Linked DNA regions of Homo sapiens. The protein of the gene in region 2 interacts with the protein of the main gene of each other region in a pairwise test. Each region holds a gene or a part of one and is shown on either strand. Other genes may lie near its edges.

The links.
Region 1: the proteins of EFHC2 (region 2) and NEK6 interact in binary tests that used the Homo sapiens proteins (3 or more experiments, as listed by UniProt).

What each region holds. Positions count from the first base shown.
Region 1 is NC_000009.12:124,323,870-124,327,615, reverse strand, and holds part of NEK6 (serine/threonine-protein kinase Nek6), read right to left. Parts: intron 1,287-3,746; coding exon 1,178-1,286; intron 279-1,177; coding exon 171-278; intron 1-170. UniProt on the Homo sapiens protein: Protein kinase which plays an important role in mitotic cell cycle progression. Required for chromosome segregation at metaphase-anaphase transition, robust mitotic spindle formation and cytokinesis.
Region 2 is NC_000023.11:44,336,927-44,340,672, forward strand, and holds part of EFHC2 (EF-hand domain-containing family member C2), read right to left. Parts: intron 1-3,746. UniProt on the Homo sapiens protein: Microtubule inner protein (MIP) part of the dynein-decorated doublet microtubules (DMTs) in cilia axoneme, which is required for motile cilia beating.

The sequences.
Region 1 (3,746 bases), on a different chromosome or scaffold from region 2:
GCTGATTCCCTTCTGGGTCACTATTCTGAACAGATGAGAAAACCCTGGGGCTTAAAAAAGGCATCTTCCTGCACTAACTGACCAAACACACGTGGGGAGAATGTTTGCGTCTCCCTGCATGGTCACCAGGACCGCTGGGGGCTGCTGGGGCACAGACAGGTCCCCCTTACCTAGGGAGTGGGCTGCGGTGGTCTCAGAGCTGAAGAAGCGGCCCAGACCAAGGTCACCGAGCTTCACGACGCCCGTGGCTGTGATGAACACGTTGGCAGGCTTGATGTCTGCAGGGCGAGGAGAAGGAGATTGGTGTGGGGTAGGAGGCTTGGGGTAGGTGGGGCAGGACGAGAGGAAGGGGGAGGAAGGTGAGGCCTAGCCCAGGTCCTGCTCCCTCAGGGCAAGGCCCTGTCCTGGCTCTGGCTGTGGGACCTCGGGAAATTGACCATTTCTGAGCCTCAGTTTCTTCATATGAAAAATGGGTCTCCCTCCACCAACTTGACAGAGCTGCTGTGAGGGTTAAGACAGCAGGGGTTTCTGTGCTCCTGTTTCCTGCTCTAGAGCTGTATCCTCCATGCCTAGAACAGTGCCTCGCACACAGGAGGCCCTCAGGGAAAATCTGCGTAATGAATGAACGGAGTGCTCAGTGGAGCACCCAGTGCCGTACCCCCCAGTGAGGGCGGGGCCTCCAATACAGCAGACACCAAGAGATACAGGTAGAGTGAAGGAACGGAGGTGTCCATGAAGCAGCCTACGTAAAGGACCTCGTGCCCTGCCGGGCACCCAGCAGGCTCCTTTCTCACAACTCGGAATCATGTCAACTGTGGAAACACCCCTCTCAGGTGCCTCCCCTTCTCAGCCCAGCCCGCTGAGACGGCAAAGCCCCCATGAAAGTCCCCTCTGTGCGAGGCTTCCTCGACCTCCCTCCCAGGCTGCTGTGGGGAACTGGAAGTGGTGTGCCAAGCGGGGCCCCTGCCCCCTGGGGCTCATGTCACTTTCCACCTCGGGGAGGTTCCTGACCCGGGCGCGTGTGTGTGCGCGGTTGCTGGGCAGCCCCCTTGCCTGGGGAATACAGAGCGGTCCAACTTCCTCAAGGGGCTGCCCCTGAGGACCCTGGAGGAGCCATGAGGAAGTGTCTTCCTGGGCTCCAGGTGGCTCCGGGCGGCTCCTGGCGGGTGGCACGTACCTCGGTGCATCACCCGGCGTGAATGCATGTGCTCCACGGCGCTGCACAGCTGCACAAAGTACTTCCATACTGTCCTCTCCGGGATGAGCCGCTTCTGCTTCTTAAAGTACTGCAGTGGGGGAGACAAGCAGAGGGATAGGCCCGGGTGAGCGGGCTTGGAGGTGGGTGGCCACAGGGCACTGCCTCTGTCCTTTCCCCAGTGGGTAACTGGTGCCTGGCAGGGGCGGGGGGGGGGGATTGAGCCACTGAGCAAACAATAAGCCCAGAACCAAGAGTGCTGTGTCCACGCCTCTACTTCTGCCTGAATGGCACTCTGCAGCCACCCTGTCCCAACCCAGCAAGCTCCGTGAGGGCCAGGCAGGCCTGGCATGTCCGGATGGCTTTGCTGCATGGACACCCAGCTCAAATATGCTGAAAGTGGCCCTCAACTGCATTTTTCCAGAACCTCCTGGACACCCCCTCCACAGGGCACTCCTTGCAAGACTGAAATGGGTGTGGACTCTCCCTGTCCCCAGCCCCAGCCTGGCCCAGGAGGGTGGCACCCAGGACACACGTGGTGGTTAAATCACAGCTGCCCCCATCTCCTCGGAACCAGCAGATCTCAGTGCACTGGAATTCTTAACAAACGCGGCGAGAACCTTGAGGAAATGGGCTTGACGCACTCAAAAGGAACCCCAGTTCCAACGGGCATCAGTCTGCTTCACTGCCTGGGAAAACATATTTAGTGCTCCAGGAAGAAAACAAAAACTAAAGGTCCCCGGCCACACTGAGTGAGCTGTAAGTAACAGAAGGTCCTGGAGAGGGCAGGCCCAGAGCATGTGACAGCCACGGCTCAGCTAGAGACGGGGGTGGCTCTCAGGTGCCAGGCCCATGCCTGTGGGGCAGGACTTCTTCACCAGCTACCTGCATACCAGCTTTTTGTGCAGGGGCTTTTTGCTTCAAAGCAACCACCTTTCCCCAAAGCAGGCAGAGGCGGCGCTGTGGGCCTGCTGGTCAGGGCAGCTGCTCTGGTGCTGGGAAGCTGGGAACTGACCAGGACACACTGGCCTGGAAAGGGGCATGGGTGGAGGAAAGGAGCTGGGCCAGCACTTTCAGACCACCTGCAGGGTGTGGCCACCATGCCGGGCCTAAGAGGGAGGGCTAGGCCCATCTTACAGACAGGGAAACGAAACTGAGGGCCACGTAGAAAGAGGCAGAAACACAGCTCAGCCCCAGGCCTCCCACCTAGAAAGCCCAAGTCCTTAGCCCACTTCTTTTTTTTTTTGAGATGGAGTCTCCCTCTGTCGCCCAGGCTGGAGTGCAGTGGCGTGATCTCAGCTCACTGCAACCTCCACCTCCTGGGTTCAAGCAATTCTCCTGCCTCAGTCTCCCGAGTAGCTGGGATTACAGGTGTGCGCCACCACGCCCAGCTATTTTTTGTATTTTTAGTAGAGATGGGGTTTCACCACGTTAGCCAGGCTGGTCTCGAACTCCTCACCTCAGGTGATCTGCCTGCCTCGGCCTCCCAAAGTGCTGGGATTACAGGCGTGAGCCACCACGCCTGGCCCCCTTAGCCCACTTCTAATAACACCAGTAACCATTGATATGGGAGACTGAGCTCAGAGGTTCAGGAACATGCCCAAGGTCACCCAGCACCCAGCTGGGACCCAGGTCTGGGTGCTTCCCACGGTGGGACAGTCGCAGTGGGGAGCCCCTGACCTCGCCGTAAATCCCCTCGAGGCTGTTCTGAGGTACAATTCTGGGAGGCCCTCTCAGGTGAGCCGTCCCAGGTCTCAGCACAGACCCCACCCCCAGGCCACCTCCAGGCCTGTGGCGGGCCAGGCCGGGATGTTATTCACGCTGTGATGTGAGTGAATCCTCATTACAGCATTTAAGCAGGGACGCGCGTGGCCGAGAGTGGTGATTTTCTAAATGTCATGTCCTATAAGCGCTGTCTGACATTTAGCGGGGAGGCGCAGAGTCTCTGGTGGGTTCTGGGGCTACGGCAGCTCCTAGCTTCACTCTTCCTCGTAAATAACTCGGGCACCATGGCTGTGATGGCGCAGCTCAGCCCTTGAGGCTGCAGGCTCTCGGGACACAATCCCTGCTGCCTGACAGCCTCTGAGGCCAGTGGGGCGACCATGGGGTATCCCCTGTTCCTCTGGAAACCCAGAGGTGGCCTGAGAGCAGGCAGAACCAGGGGAACCGAGCTCCCACCAAACCCCAGGCATTGTGCTGGTATGTTACAGATGAGGCAACTGAGGCACAGGGACCCGCCTGAGGCCATCCAGGGGACGTGTCTTACTCGAGTGGGTCTCTGCACTGCCAGGCCTCCCCTGCTGGCGGCTGCACCGAGCCAGCTCTGCAGGTGAGGGCCCCTGAGCCGGGTTGGAGGGAACGGGAGCAGGCAGGGACAGTGGGGGGAGAGAGGTGGGGACTGTGGGAGGGGGAACCATGCCAGGTGAGGAGGAAGGACCCGAGGCGTGGGGGGCCAGGTGGCTGCTCAGAAACTGAGGCCACACCCATCCTAGACTCAATCCTGCTGGGTTCATGACTGACTTGAACCCTGAGCCAGTGTTGGCTCTGGTGA
Region 2 (3,746 bases):
GTCAGTAAAAGAACCTAATTTTTAAGTCTTGTATAAAATTATATCTTAGGTTATATTTTTACTCATAATGCTTTGTCATATAGTTTTAGTAGCTTTATTATGTAACATTGTCAATACATTTTGATGTTGAAAACAGCATTAATTACGAGTTTACAACCTTTATTTAAATTAAATCATCTTAGCCTACTTTTTGAAAAAGTAAATTCCATCTTAGATATAAACAGAAATAACTTGAATTATTTAACATGTTTATATTATGCTGACTGAAAAGTTTTTTGAATGTATGGAAAGGAAAGAAAGGTAAGCTAAGTTTAACTATCTGTTTTGGGTTTTTTTTCCCTCAAAAAAGCTGGTAAAAAGTCCTTTTCAGTTTTTAATAGGGGAGAAAACTACTTTTGTTCATACCATATACCATATATCATTCCTCAATAGCACCCTCTATAATAGAAACTATAGAGAACTTTTAGGCCTACTTGGATAAGGTAAAAAGGAAAAATAAATCAAGTAGAAAATTTTACCATAAAACAACCTGAAGTTTCCTCTTCTACATTCCCACTTGCTTTAGGGTTGATAACCCTTTGTGAGAAAGGGAAAGAGTAGGTAAATAAGTTGGCTGAAATCAAGAGATCCACAGAAAACTACCATTTTTTACTTTAAAAAGACAATTATTATTGGATTATTATAGCTACAATATTCTCATTCCAGTTGAAAATGAAATTGATATGTGCTTATTTTGAGTTTAACCCAGAATTATTTATGGGAATTTATTTATTTCACATAAATTCGGAACTGGCCATATGGCAGGTGTGTGTTTAACTTTATAAGAAATTACCATTTCGCATTCCCACCAGCAATGAGTGAGAATTCCTGTTATTTCAAATCCATGTGAGCAATTGGTATTGTGTTTTGGATTTTAGCCATTTTAATAGGTATACAGTGGTATCTCATCTTGATTTTAATTCTTATTTCCCTAATAGCTATAATGTTGAACATCTTTTTATGTAATTACATATTTATTATCACAGATTGTGCTAATGTACCATGGGCTATAGATATAGTTTTTATGCAGGAGTTCTCTAAGACCTCAAAATCATTTCAAAGACTCCTCCAGGGTGAAAAGATTGAGATTTGAGGTGATGAAAATGTTCTGAAACTAGTTAGAGGTGTTAGTTGTTGCACAACAGTGTGAATGTACCAAGTACCACTGAATTGTATACTTTTAAATAGTTAGTGGTTAATTTCATGTTACATGAAATTTACCTCAAAAAATTTAAAAATATACATTAAGAAAGGCTGACAAGGCTCTTTGAAGGGTGAGAGATGAGATCTGACCTTGAAAGAAGCTGAAGATCTAAATTTAAATAAGAATTGCCCAGTCTGGACAATACAGTGAGACCGCATCTCTACAAATAATAATTTAAAAAATTAGCTGGGTATGGTGGTGCATGTCTGTAGTCCTAGCTACTGTGGCAACAGAGGTGGGAGGATGTCTTGAGCCCGAGAGGTTGAGGCTGCGTGCAGTGAACTGTGAGCTGTGATCCTGCCACTGCACCCCAGCCTGGGAGAAAGAGCAAGACCCTATCGCAAAAAAAAAAAGATGGAGATGGCTCGAATGAGTGTTTTTCAAACACTGATTGCACAACCACAGTAATAGGCATATTTTAGTGCAGGCCAGTTCACATACATACACAAGCACACACAGGAAGGACAAAAAGGTCCGTGCAACACTTAACTCCTCTCAAGCATAATACACTCTAATTCTTCATTCTACCCCACTCTCTTCTTTTTCTTTTTTCCTTTTCAAAAAAAAAAAAAGCTGGTCATGATTCATTAAATTCCTTTTTTTTTTATTGCTGCAAATTCAAATATGTTTTCTTTTTTCTTAAGGAGGACTTTGCTTCACTACAAATTAGATGATGGGCTATTTACAGCAAACCCTCCTAAGATGGTGGCAAGGTAGCTTCATTAAAAGCAGAAAGAGCGGCCAGGCGCGGTGGCTCACGCCTGTAATCCCAGCACTTTGGGAGGCTGAGGCGGGTGGATCAACTGAGGTCAGGAGTTCGAGACCAGCCTGATCAACATGGTAAAACCCCAATTCTACTCAAAATACAAAAATTAGCCAGGCGTGGTGGCACACACCTGTAATCCCAGCTACTCAGGAGGCTGAGGCAGGAGAATCGATTGAACCTGGGAGGCAGAGGTTGCAGTGAGCCGAGATGGCGCCATTGCGCTCCAGCCTGGGTGACAGAGCGAGACTCCATCTCCAAAAAAAAAAAGCAGAAAGAGTGAGCTCTTCATCATTCATTAGAGACACTCAGGATCAGGATGGGCCACACAACCATCTGTCCAAAATACTGCAGAAAGGATTTTTGGCTTTGGCTGGAAATGTCCCTTTTAATTTTAATATTTTCAATTTTGATAATATGCCCAAGATTCTCTTGCTCAATACAAGTTCAGCATGGAAATTGTTGGAAAAAAGATACAGTGTATCTAGAATTTAGTTGTGATATTTCCCTAAGGTTTTCAACTCATATCAAAATAATTGTAATGTCATCAGAGGTACAAATGTTCATATTTTAGAAGGCACCATACTTCTTGTATTTGAGAGAGAGAAATACAGGTTGCGTATCACCTAGCCGTGGACAGAAATCAATCTATTGCTTTTGACTGACCACTGGCAGCTAAGTAAGGGGCACATAAGTTCCTTTTCAATTCTATGGAAAAGCAATAAAAGTTAGCTGTGTTATAATTTTAAATCCAAACAGCCAAGTAATTATGCTATCTACAGGAGGCCAAGGTTTTTCACTTGGTAATTTAATTCAGCAAGCAGGGGAGGGGGGAAGGGCAAGACTAAAAGGCCAGATATGGCTTTACTGACTTTCTAACCATTCTATGCCAGAGAACATCCAATCTTTTAACTAAGTACAAGTTTTTAAAATATTAATTTGTGGGCAACACACAGTACATTTAGTACCAAGGCTAGTGTAACAATTTTTTAAATGTAGTCACCTAATTTTGGCATATACTAGGATACTCAATAAATAAATACTGATTTGTTGAATGAGTCCAAGGTACTGTCATTCTCTAGTACACACGCACATACACACATGCACGCACACACTCCCATTGTTCTCAGGCATAAAGTAAATAAATGTTTTAAATATTCATGAGTCTAGAAATAGACCCACACGTAGCTGGATGCTTGATTTTTGACAAAGTGGCTCTGCAGAGACATGGAGAAAGAGTGATCTTTTCCAAAAATTATTCATCAAAAACATCATTAAGAGAAGGAAAAGGCCAATCACAGACAAGAAGATACCCAAAATTTATATAGAACTTCTACAAATCACTAAGAAATAGGCAGACAACCCAGTAAACATTAGACAAGAGATAAGTAAGTACTACACAAAAAAGTAGTGACCAATAAATGGTCATACAAATAAAGCCAGGCACGGTGGCTCACGCCTGTAATCCCAGCACTTTGGGAGGCTGAGGCGGGCGGATCGCCTGAAGTCAGGAGTTCAAGACCAGCCTGGCCAACATGGTGAAACCCCGTCTCTACTAAAAATTAAAAAAAAAAAAATTAGCCAGGCATGATGGCGCATGCCTGTAATTCCAGCTACTCGGGAGGCTGAGGCAGGAGAATCGCTTGAAGCCAGAAGGCGGAGGTTGCAGTGAGCCGAGATTGCACCACTGCACTCCAGCCTGGGCAACAGAGCAAGACTCCGTCTAAAAAAAAAAGCAGT